Linked DNA regions of Homo sapiens: regions 2, 3 and 4 are each reported to be linked to region 1. Evidence: microRNA targets listed by miRTarBase, many of them from high-throughput screens and not tested one by one. Region 1 holds a microRNA gene; each other region holds the end of a gene's coding sequence.

The links. Region 1 holds the annotated microRNA hsa-miR-19b-3p (UGUGCAAAUCCAUGCAAAACUGA, at 1,242-1,264, opposite strand). A microRNA usually pairs through its seed, bases 2 to 8, with sites in the 3' UTR of a target mRNA and lowers its output. Matches are read on the target gene's strand: a 7mer-m8 pairs with bases 2 to 8, a 7mer-A1 pairs with bases 2 to 7 and ends in A, and an 8mer does both.
Region 2: miRTarBase lists DAD1 as a target of hsa-miR-19b-3p. The part of its 3' UTR that is shown has no 7-base or 8-base seed match.
Region 3: the mRNA of COQ10B is a reported target of hsa-miR-19b-3p. Seed matches in the 3' UTR shown: 8mer at 2,642-2,649.
Region 4: miRTarBase lists TTC9C as a target of hsa-miR-19b-3p. The part of its 3' UTR that is shown has no 7-base or 8-base seed match.

What each region holds. Positions count from the first base shown.
Region 1 is chr13:91,349,359-91,352,508 of GRCh38, reverse strand. It overlaps MIR19B1 (microRNA 19b-1), which reads right to left and starts at 1,317; the gene lies at 1,231-1,317. MIR17HG (miR-17-92a-1 cluster host gene) reads right to left here. Exons shown (of 3, transcript NR_197388.1): 2 at 2,739-2,811; 3 at 1-2,353. MIR17 (microRNA 17) reads right to left here and starts at 1,904; the gene lies at 1,821-1,904. It overlaps MIR18A (microRNA 18a), which reads right to left and starts at 1,758; the gene lies at 1,688-1,758. It also overlaps MIR19A, MIR20A and MIR92A1. RefSeq lists an enhancer at 2,689-3,150.
Region 2 is chr14:22,572,320-22,575,441 of GRCh38, forward strand. DAD1 (defender against cell death 1) reads right to left here. Exons shown (of 3, transcript NM_001344.4): 2 at 2,740-2,914. The coding sequence ends at 2,784. Among named protein-coding and RNA genes, the nearest start is that of DAD1, 15 kb to the right of the region's middle.
Region 3 is chr2:197,473,560-197,476,709 of GRCh38, reverse strand. COQ10B (coenzyme Q10B) reads right to left here. Exons shown (of 5, transcript NM_025147.5): 5 at 1,400-2,953. The coding sequence ends at 2,786. Among named protein-coding and RNA genes, the nearest start is that of SNORA105B, 12 kb to the left of the region's middle.
Region 4 is chr11:62,737,972-62,741,101 of GRCh38, forward strand. TTC9C (tetratricopeptide repeat domain 9C) reads left to right here. Exons shown (of 3, transcript NM_173810.4): 3 at 317-665. The coding sequence ends at 411. Among named protein-coding and RNA genes, the nearest start is that of TTC9C, 11 kb to the left of the region's middle.

The sequences.
Region 1 (3,150 bases):
TCTAACCTAGTGTTATGGAAGTTTATTTCTTATTACTAAGATAGCCTCTTTTACTCCAAAATACAATGACATTTCTCAAAACTTATCTTTCAAACATCAAGTTTGCCTGTACTTCAGCTTGGGCCCAATTTTACCACTTGGTCCTTTTAAATCTATTATTCAGGTATCCCACATTATTCTACACAAATACACATAGGCTAGAGACAAAAACACATGAAGAAAAGAGAGAAGGCAGAAATGCTGGGTAAAACACTAACTGCCACTTCTTAGTTTCCACTTCAGTGACTTTAAGTCAAATAAGCCTGGAATCAACTATCACTGTTGCCAAAGTCTGGCTTACGTAGGGAGTAGGGAACATAAATGTTAACTACAGACTTAGAAATAAATGAATATCTGAATCTCACCCCACCGCTGCACTCTTGGCATTTGGGAAGAGTGTACACATACATTTAACTGTTACTCTATTTAGCATTTGTTCTTTTTCTAACTCCCATTTTTTTAAGTTGCAGATGCTAAAAGCAGTCTGAGGACCTTGGTCATTTATAGCTTATAAATCACTGACAATCAGAAAGAAAAACTAGTATACAAGCATTTAACAGTTACACTTCAGTTACTCATGTATTGGTAAACTGGTACTTGCTTAATAGAAACAAATTGTACCCCAACCCTAAATTCCATGCTTAAAAAAACTCATCTTTACACATTGCTTTAAACAGAGCGGCATTCTCTCTAAATTTAAATACTTGAGTAATATATGAGCAACATAAATTAACTTTTAGATTAAGTAAAATATCCTGGAATAACACTAACTCCAAAGAAAGCAAAAAGATATACTCTAACTTTACAGATGATCATCAGGTATACAGTATGTTTAGTCATATCGCAATACTTAACAGCCAAATAAATCTAACAACAAAAAATATAGCCAGAATTTATACTGCCAAATCTGACACGCAACCCCAAAAGTGAAATGTTTTTGAATGAAAACAAGACAAGATGTATTTACACAAAAAGTTACACATTTTCTTTAATATTTCATGTATCTTGTACATTTAACAGTGGAAGTCGAAATCTTCAGTAATATTTAATTTTCAAAATCTTCTGGTCACAATCCCCACCAAACTCAACAGGCCGGGACAAGTGCAATACCATACAGAAACACAGCATTGCAACCGATCCCAACCTGTGTAGAAAGGGGTTTGAGTTTCCCTTACTTTTCTACAGACTTTTCACTACCACAGTCAGTTTTGCATGGATTTGCACAGCAGAATATCACACAGCTGGATGCAAACCTGCAAAACTAACCATAGAACAGTGTTCAGTAACAGGACAGTTTGATTGGGCGACAGGCCGAAGCTGGAGTTCTACAGCTAGCAGTACTTTAAGTGCTCATAATGCAGTAGATAACTAAACACTACCTGCACTATAAGCACTTTAGTGCTACAGAAGCTGTCACATCAGATAGACCAGGCAGATTCTACATCGACACAATAAAAGTACACAAAATTAGTAAAAATCATTCATTTGAAGGAAATAGCAGGCCACCATCAGTTTTGCATAGATTTGCACAACTACATTCTTCTTGTAGTGCAACTATGCAAAACTAACAGAGGACTGCAAACAAAAACTATTAAAACACCTATATACTTGCTTGGCTTGAATTATTGGATGAATACATAACTTCTTATGCCAGAAGGAGCACTTAGGGCAGTAGATGCTAATCTACTTCACTATCTGCACTAGATGCACCTTAGAACAAAAAGCACTCAACATCAGCAGGCCCTGCACTTTAAAGCCCAACTTGGCTTCCCGAGGCAGCTGTCACCATAATGCTACAAGTGCCTTCACTGCAGTAGATGCACATATCACTACCTGCACTGTAAGCACTTTGACATTATTCTGACTGGTCACAATCTTCAGTTTTACAAGGTGATGTTCTCTTTTTTCCTGCTAAATTTGAAATAGATAATTAGAATTAACACCTCAAACTCTAACAACTATAAACCATACAAATTCAGCATAATCCCTAATGGGGAAGAAAAAATTAGTTTAATTATCTCAAAGATATGAGGTCCATTTAGACACGTATTTATGCCTTAAGAATTCTTTACAGAAGGCAATCATAACCAACCATCCAACTAGCACTGGAAGTGGTGGCTCTTCCAATGGCTGGCCTCTCCCAAATGGATTGACACATAGAGAAAAAAAACAAAACAAAATGAGACTGCAAATAAATGAGAACTAATTTTGGAACATTTAAAGGCAATTTAGTCCATGTGTACCTTTTAGAGGAAATCTTCACATCCACGTGGCAAAACATTTTCCTCCTCTTCTGGCTTCCACTTAGCAAATACTTGTTGAAATGATTAACAAAATTACTGTTCAGACTACACTTCAAGTGTTATCAGTCAATTGTAGCAGAACGTAAATATCCTGTTTAAATCTATCATCTCAGGTTATATCTACTTTATCACCCAACTTAAAAGAGGGTCTAAAATTATATTTCGTAAACTGCATAAGCCAGTTTCCAAAAATGTACAGGAATATTTACACTGTAATTTTACTACCTTAAAATTAGCAAATCCGTACTTAATGAGTTAGTTTTTCAGAAAAGGTACATTGTCTAAAGAAAGAAACACCTACTTTTACTCTCTAAGAAACCAATCCTATTTATTCAACTTTAATAGCAAGAAAAATTTGTTTTTAAGAAAAGTTCAAGAAAATCAGAATACACTTACCCATTCCAGAAAACTTCCTTTTCAGCAAGTATTCTCAGAAAAGCTACTGGTGCAGTTAGGTCCACGTGTATGACTGGAATAGGGAAAAATAAGGAAAAAAAAGATAAAACATTATTTGCTCAAAATTACTACCACCGTCCAAATCTATATTTGCTATTTTCCAACCTCCTAACAGCAATTAATTCCATCCATTTGTGAGAGTAAGAGTCGAGCAATACTAGCAGGATTTAAAAGCCCAATAATTTACAGTTGAAAAATACGTAAGAGAATAAAGTTGAAAAATCCTTAGCTATCAGATACATGTCTAAATAAGCTCCTAAAATACTTGATTATGATCAGCAGCAATCACCGACTCCACTGTACAGCTCCAGTAAAAGGAAAAAAAAAAAGCAGCCCACAGACTATTCTTCAC
Region 2 (3,122 bases), not on the chromosome of region 1:
GTGCTGTGGCACAGTGCACATATAGCTGAGTTAGAAGCACATAAAAGGAGCAAATAAATGTATATTTTTAAAAACTGAGAGCAGGACAGTATAGTATAATTCAAATGAAGGATCTCTATGAAAAACAATCTGGGCAATCCCCCAGAGAGAAAGATTTTTCTATGAACATACTCTCCATAGAAAGATTTAACACTGCAATCTGGGATTGAGGATTTTGCTATGCTTTGGGCCCATAATTCCCAGCTGAGCAGGTGGTCCTAGGTTGTTAATATGGTCTGCAGTACACAGTTTCTGCTGAGACTGCTTTTTTGTCTTTGCTTTTGTCATAATTTTGAAATACTAAGCTCTCTGCAGTAGAGTCTTCCTCCAATCATGACAGCCCTAAGAAATAATTTTCCATGATTTGGTATCTCCCTGAGCCTAGAAAACATCCTTGAAATGTTTGCTGTGTCCCCTTCCTAAGTACACACCATGACTCATCTAGAAAAAAAGAACTTCAGAAATCTAGAGTAAGCAATCAGAAGACATGACCTTTCCAGAAGGCTCTATCAGGAAGCCCAAGGGTTACTCATATTTGCAAGCGTGAGAAGGTCAATGTTGGTGGGTCAGTTTTCTACCTGCATTCAAGGTTATCCACTGGTAACAGTTCATTTTAACTAGCAATAGCTGTTATCCATTGCTCAGATAACTCATCTGCTGTCCCTGCTCCCAGATGGTACAGCTGCTCTCTTCTCTGGATTTTTGCAGCACTTTGTTCAAACCTATAGCGAGGCCCTAAATGGGCTGTATTTTAACTGTTATGTTTACGTATTCTCCCCTACTAGACTGTACATGTCTTGAAGGCAGAAGCCACACTTTTGGGTTTTTTTTTTTAATTGAGATAGGGTCTTGCTATGTTGCCCATGCTGGTCTCAAATTCTTGAGCTCAAGCAATCGCCCACCTCGCCTTCCGAAAGTGCTGGGATTATAGGCATGAACCACCACGCCCAGCCAACAATATTGTTTATATTCCCAACAACAAGACATTGGCTGGCACATAGAAGGGGAGGGAGGAAGGGAGGAAGAGGATAACTCAAGTCTTAATCAGGTGTCTAATGAGTTAAATTGTATTAAAATAACAGAACAAAGTGGTTCTTAAAAGTTTTTCACTGTTGGGAGGCCAAGGCGGGCGGATCACCAGGTCAGGAGATCGAGATCATCCTAACACGGTGAAACTCCGTCTCTACTAAAAATACAAAAAATTAGCCGGGCGTGGTGGCGGGCGCCTGTAGTCCCAGCTACTCGGGAGGCTGAGGCAGGAGAATGGCATGAACTCGGGAGGCGGAGTCTGCAGTGAGCCGAGATCGCACCACTGCACTCCAGCCTGGGTAACAGAGCGAGACTCCATCTCAAAAAAAAAAAAAAAAAAACAGAAAAGAAAAAAAAAAAGTTTTTCACTGAAATAAACCTCACTGTCAACTTACCACTACCAAAATGATACCTTACCTGAACTAACAGAACTGTTTTTGAGGCAGTATCAAAGGAAAGGATTTAGGTAACATATTATAAGTAAATGACTAATTCATGTCAGAAAAGGAAGTATAGTCACTTCCACATTATTGCATCCACTTTGCACATAGATGCTCTAACTCTTATACTAGATTTCTGCTGGTTAGTATAAAAATGACAGCTTTCCAAGTGGTGACAGGAAGAGGTTGGTCCTAGGATATCCTTCCCCCAAATAGGATGAGATCTCCTAAGGTTCTCTTTTCTCTACCACCCAGAACATTACATTTTGCAATGCAAAGGCAAAGATTGCATGCATTCATCAGTAAGCTACATGGGATACCGGAAGGAGTACGGGGCCAAGAACACCGCTAGACTAGGGCACTTCACTGCAAACACTTAACTATGTGGCCAGGGAAGGCCAATGGATTGTTCTAGGCCTCTGTTGTCTCATATATAAAGTAACAGTGTTGACATACGGTATGGAAAACAGCCATATATTTATTAAAGCTTTAGAACTCTGCTTGGGAGGGAGCGATTTAGGGGAGGGCGTACCATATGTGATGAAGGCCAAGCAGAGAGGGCTTTTCAATTTCTGTCCATCAAAAAAAACTCCAATTCTACTTCTGCTTTATATACCAAGATTCTTTTTGTAAGAGTTTGTTTGGGAGAAGGGAGAAAGAACTCTACTGCTAAAAAAGTGAAAATGGCAAATGAACCAAGCAGCATCCCATCTTATATTTTAAAGTCTTCTCCCAAGTTAACCCAATTTCCCCATTTATTTCTACTTTAAGGCACATATTAGCAAATGCCCACAGTCATTCATCCAACATACACTGGATGCTATCAAATTTAAGTGCTATGAAAACAATGGTCCAGCATTAAAAGTCATCTGAGATCAAAATCAGAAAAAAATTAACTAACAAATCTAAAGGCAAAACCTACCATTTATGTCTCTTCCAAAATCTCCGAGTTATTTTCGTGGAGTTATTGGTACAGAAATTATTGTACTAGCTACAAACATTAATTTTCTATTACCTTAATGATTTGAAGAACAGAAAGACAAGGCAATGACCAAGAGCAGTAGCACTGATGAATTATGATGATATTAATGCATACTTTGCAGACCAATGGAAAATTCTGCAAATGTCAATAGCAGTATGGGAGCCTGGCCAACCATGATCAAAACCAGTCCCATCCAATTTCTCTTCCTAAAATCAACATTATAGGACAAGGACTATGATCATCACTTACATTCTTTTAGTCTCCTACTCCTCAATTAAGTAAATGAGAATGATTCAGCCAACAAAGTTCATGACAACAAGGTGCAGGATGGTGCTGGCAAAGAGAAAATCAGCAAAGGCTCGCTCTGGGGAGATGCCTTGGAAATCCGCTTTGTTCTGTGGGTTGATCTGTATTCTCAGGCAAACTGCACAAGAAGCAAAACACAAAAAAATGATTATATAGAAGTATAAAATAAATATGCTAATGAACACAGACATACCCGAGGACCCAACAATTCTACTCTAACAGAAATGAATGCATATATACATCAAAGGGCATACACAGAAATGATACCCAGATAGCCCCAAACTGGAAACAATCTAATGTCTATCAACAGTAAAATGGATAAATTA
Region 3 (3,150 bases), not on the chromosome of region 1:
TTTAAAAAAGAGAATACAGTACATGGAGATAATAAAATGTCTGAGTCTTATTTTTAAAAAGCTTTAAATGACTTTGCCATTTTAAAAAAACTTTGTGGCCGGGTGCAGTAGCTCACGCCTATAATCCCAACACCCTGGGAGGCCAAGGCCGGCAGATCATTTAAGGTCAGGAGTTCAAGACCAGCCTGGGAAACATGGTGAAACCGTCTCCACTAAAAAATACAAAAATTAGCCGATGTGGTGGTGCGCGCTGATACTCTCCAGCTACTTGAGAGGCTGAAGCAGGAGAATCACTTGAACCTGGGAGGCGGAGGTTGCAGTGAGCCGAGATTGTGCCACTGCACTCCAGCCTGGACAACAGAGTTGAGACTCTGTCTCAAAAAAACAAAAAACAAAACGAAACAACAAAAAAAAGTTTTTTGTTTTTTGTTTTTTTTTTGAGGTGGAATCTTCCTCTGTCGCCAGGCTGGAATACAGTGATGTGATGTCTGCTCACTGCAACCTCCGCCTCCTGGGTTCAAGTGATTCTCCTGCCTCAGCCTCCCGAGTAGCTGGGACTACAGGCGCACGCCACCACACCCAGCTAATTTTTGTATTTTTAGTAGAGACAGGGTTTCACCATGTTGGCCAGGATGGTCTCAATCTCTTGACCCCGTGATCTGCCTGCCTCAGCCTCCCAAAGTGCTGGGATTGCAGGCATGAGCCAGCGTGCCCAGCCAAAAAAAAAAAAAAAACTTTGTTATTTAAAAAGCTACATTGGTACACTGGCCAGGGACAGTGGCTCACGCCTGTAATGCCAGCACTTAGGAAGGCTGAGGCAGGCAGATCACCTGAGGTTGGGAGTTTGAGGCCAGCCTCATCAACACGGAGAAACCCCGTTTCTACTAAAAATACAAAATTAGCCAGGTGTGGTGGTGCATGCCTGTAATCCCAGCTACTCAGGAGGCTGAGGCAGGAGAATTGCTTGAACGTGGGAGGCAGAGGATGCGGTGAGCTGAGATCGCGTCATTGCACTCCAGCCTGGGCAACAAAAGCGAAACTCCGTCTCAAGAAAAGAAAAAAAAAAAAGGTATATAACTATATACAAACTACTTATGCTCTTGGCAAATACCTCATCTGTAAGTGGAAAGATACTGCTTACCTTGTGTGAGAGCACAACCTGGCTCCTCATGAGTAGAGGCTGATATGAATCCTTCATCACTCTATACCCAGTGTCTGATTGAAAGCAGGTGCTCAAAACAGATTTATTAAACAAATTAATACCCATATATATACTTATGTAGAGAACTAATTACTGAGGTCCCTTGTTGACCTGAGGAAACAAAGTTAATAGCACTATCACTGGAAGTTTAATGCCAGAGGGTTGTTGGTATGTAGTGAAAGGAGGACAGGAGATCAATGACTGGTTAAAAGAAAACTGAATTTTGCTTATATTTGTTAAAGTCTGTTTCTTCATAGAAATAGATATTTTAGATATCTTCATAGATATTTTTAAGACATGAAATGCTGTAACACTTTACTATGTCTATGCAAATACACATTTAAACAATATAGGAAGATTTCAATAACCAAACTAACTGTACAAAAAATAAACAAATTAACTTTATTACATTGCTACTTCAACTTCAGTCCTTACATTGATTTGTTTTTTAAAAAATACCAGTTTGAAACACATTACTGAAAGTGAGTGTACACAATAAATAGAAAATAGGGATGCATAGTGCTGGAGACATTCAACCAACTTATCTTCATCTGTTGCCTACTGTTGTAGACAAAATTTGACACACAATTAGCATTACTGAAAGAGCAGCCAAACTACCTCGGAGAAAGTGGCAAACTACTGGAAAAGTAGCTTAAAGCTCTGGACCACTCACCAAAAAAAAAAAAAAAAAGAAGAAAATACACTGTTTATCTGGGAGCTAGCCTCATTATGGCAATGAATTTATCTACTAGTCATAAGAACAATTTTTAAAATATCAAAAGTCCCAGGGAACCTTCACTAACAGTTTTTGTTTTTGTTTTTGGAGACAGAGTCTCCCTCTGTTGCCCAGGCTGGAGTGCAGCAGGGCGATCTTGGCTAACTGCAACCTCCGCCTCCCGGGTTCAAGCGATTCTTGTGCCTCAGCCTCCCAAGTAACTGGGATTACAGGTGTGTGCCACCACGCCCAGCTAATTTTTGTATTTTTAGTAGAGATGGGGTTTCGCCATGTTGACCAGGCTGGTCTAGAACTCCTGACCTCAACTGATCTGCCCACCTCAGCTTCCCCAAGTGCTGGGATTACAGGTGTGAGCCACTGTGCCCAGCCCAAAGTTTTTACTTTAAATATATGATTACTCAAATATCCTAAGCCATACGGCAGGCCCTATAACAATAAGTTACAAATAGTCTGAATTTAATAACTTAAGTGTGATATGGTTAATATAATACATACTGTGTGAATATCTTAACTAACCTCTTTCAGGTAAGGTGATAATTAAAAGGTTTAAATTTACAGTTTCAACTTCTGCTCAGAAGAATCATGCCAGTATTCTAGCAATGGTGATGACATCCCATTATTGTAATGCAGAACATGATAATGTCCATATTATTTTGAATTATACTTGAAGAAATAATTCTATGTACAAGTGAGTCTATATTCTATGTGCAAATTTTCAATGGTGCAGGTTTATAACCAAAGCTGCGTTTAACAAATGCTTTCTGGCTTCTGAAAACATGTCATGAAAATACTTCCTAAAAGTGAACAAACTAAAGTCAGAAGCAGGTGGCACCAGTTCTTTTTTGCCTTTATGTGTGATGGACTTCATGAAGCATTAACTCCCGAGGTATATTTGTTTCTGGACCATACAGCTTACATGCTCTTCTTTCAAAGGCAGCTACCATCTGCTTCACAACTTCATCAAAAAAGAGTGTGGCAAGCTGGGAATGTAGAAGTGATCGAAATTCAAAAGAAATCTGTAGGAAAATATTGAAAATTATTTTAGAAAAAATTATTTTTTGCTTTTTTTTTTTTTTTGGTTTTCCTGGAGAGGGACTCTCGCTTTGTTGCCCAGGTTGGAGTGCAGTGGCACAATTGCGGCTCACTGCAGCCTCAACCTCCTGGACTCAAGCAATCCTCCCACCTCTGTCTCCCAAGTAGCTGGTACTACAGG
Region 4 (3,130 bases), not on the chromosome of region 1:
AGTAAGTGGAGATCCCATGCTATTGCACTCTAGCCTGGGTGACAGAGCGAGACCCTGTCTCAAAAGTAAGTAAATAAATAAAATAAATAAATAAATAAATAAATAAAAATTAGCAGCCGGGACAGAGATTGTTTTTTTTCAATTCCAAATGTTATTAATTAATGAGATTTACTATTGCATAGAATGGTTGCGATATATTCAGATCTTGGAGAGATTTTAAAATGGGAGCATGTTAACATTCTCTCCTGCCACAAGGTATGATTATGGTCTTAACTGACTCTAACTGTTTCTAATTGCTTCTCCATCATCTTCCAAGATGCCAACGTCCGGCGGTACCTCCAGCTGACACAGTCAGAACTCAGCAGCTACCATAGAAAAGAGAAGCAGCTCTACCTGGGCATGTTTGGTTAACAAAGAAGAAAGATGCTCCTCCAGTTGAACTTAGGTGGACCATTAAACATGCATGAAGGAGAAATCTGAGCCTCAGCAAGAGAAATTAACCCTATACCTCTGACCCAGGTGGATTTTTGTTTCTAGTTCTGCACAAACTTCACTACTTAGACAGTCTGAGTCTTTTTCTGTCTATCCATCTGTTTATTTCTATACCTTTCAATACATGTTATTGTTGCAGATATTTGGCTTGAGAAATATAATCAGAAAACATACATCAGTTGTGGGTGGAATTAATCATATCTCTGGTATAGATTTTTCATGACAGTGTTGTTAGATGTACTTATATACAGAGGCGACAGCTTGCAGAGGACGACATAGTAAGGATAGGCAGAAAGAATTGTCTTCCTTTATTTTTTCAGAAGCCCAAACCAAAGTGGGAAATATGGCCGGGCGCTCTAGCTCATGCCTGTAATCCCAGCACATTGGGAGGCTGAGGCCAGCGGATCACCTGAGGTCAGGAGTTCAAGACCAGCCTGACCAACAGGGTAAAACCCTGTCTCTACTAAAAATACAAAAATTAGCCTGGCAAGATGACACACGCCTGTGGTCTCAGGTACTGGAAACTAGACAATTATAAATGAGCCAGGCTGGGCATGGTGGCTCACGCCTGTAATCCCAGCACTTTGGAAGGCAGAGGTAGACAGATAGATAGCTTGAGTCCAGGAGTTCAAGACCAGCCTGGGGAACACAGTGAAACCCTGTCTCTATAAAAGATGCAAAGATGGCCGGGCACGGTGGGTCAGGCCTGTAATCCCAGCACTTTGGGAGGCCGAGGCAGGTAGATCATGAGGTCAGGAGATTGAGACCATCCTGGCTAACACAGTGAAACCCCGTCTCTACTAAAAATACAAAAAATTAGCCGGGCGTGGTGGTGGGCGCCTGTAGTCCCAGCTACTCGGGAGGCTGAGGCAGGAGAATGGCATGAACCCGGGAGGTGGAGCTTGCAGTGAGCAGAGATCACGCCACTGCACTCCAGCCTGGGCAACAGAGCGAGACTCCGTCTCAAAAAAAAAAAAAAATGCAAAGATTAGCTGGGCCAGGTGTTCACCTGTAGTCCCAGCTATTCTGGAGGCTAAGGTGGGAGGATTGCTTGAATCTGGAGGGCAGCGGTTGCAGTGAGCCAAGATCCTGACACAGCACTCCAGCCTGGGTGACAGAGTGACGTGTCTCAATAAATAAATAAGCCCAAATATACTAAAGTAACTTTTTGTTTTTTGAGACAGAGTCTCACTCTGTTGCCCAGTCTGGAGTGCAGTGGTGCCATCTTGGCTCACTGCAACCTCTGCCTCCCAGGTTCAAGTGATTCTCGTGTCTGAGCCACCCAAGCAGCTGGGATTACAGGCATGTGCCACCACGCCCGGCTAATTTTTTTGTATTTCCTTTTTAGTAGAGACATGGTTTTGCCATGTTGGCCAGGGTGCTCTTGAACTCCTGGCCTCAAGTGATCCACCCACTCGGGCTCCCAAAGTGCTGGGATTACAGGTGTGAGCCACTATGCCTGGCCAAAAGTAACCATTTTGTTTAATTTTTTCTTTTTCTTTTAATTTTAAGTTCCAGGATCCATGTGCAGGATATGCAGGTTTGTTACATAGGGAAACGTGTGCCTCGGTGGTTTGCTGCACCTATCAACACATCACCTCGGTATTAAGTCCAGCATGTATTAGCTATTTTTCCTCATGTTCTCCCACCCCCCGCCACAGCCCCTGTTAAATTAATTTCTTATTCTCCTTAATATTCCATACACATTCAGATTCCTTCTCCCCTACAAAAATATTTGCTATTTTGTCCTTGCTATTTCTCATACTTAGATCATTCATACACTATATTTATTTTTTCATTAAACTATTTTAAAACCTTTGGAGTAAAGCATTTAAGTATTTATTTAATAAACCCTTCAGACCTCATGCTAAAGAAAACACCTAAGTGAACATTTTAAATTTTAATAGGTGCTTATCTATAGTATCCTCATTTCTCTTAAAAAAAAAAAAAAAAAAAAAAAAAAAAAAAAAGACCATCCTGGCTAACACGGTGAAACTCCGTCTCTACTAAAAATACAAAAAAAAAAAATTAGCTGGGCTTGGTAGCGTGTGCCTGTAGTCCCAGCTACTCGGGAGGCTGAGGCAGGAGAATGGCGTGAACTCAGGAGGTGGAGCTTGCAGTGAGCCGAGATCACGCCACTGCACTCCAGCCTGGGTGACAGAGAGAGACTCCATCTCAAAAAAAAGAAAAGATTATCACATCTTCTAAAAACATACATACTAGCCGGGTACGGTGGCTCATGCCTGTAATCCCAACACATTGGGAGTCTGAGGCGGGTGGATCACTTGAGGTCCGGAGTTCAAGACCAGCCTGGCCAACATGGCGAAACCCCATCTCTACTAAACTGCTGGGGAGGCTGAGGCGGGAGGATCACTTGAACCTAGAAGCCGGAGGTTGCGGTGATCTGAGATTGCGCCACTGCACTCCAGCCTGCGGCAGTGAGACTGTCTCAAAAAAAAAAAAAAGAAACATACATAATAGAGCAGAATAAAAACAAACCTGTCCTTTACCTGTCATCTCATATTTTGCAAGGGCTGAGGTCCTCACAGAGAAGAGAAATAGGCTGGGCGCTGTGGCTCATGCTTGTAATCCCAGCACTTTGGGAGGCTGGATCACCTGAGGTCAGGAGTTTGAGACC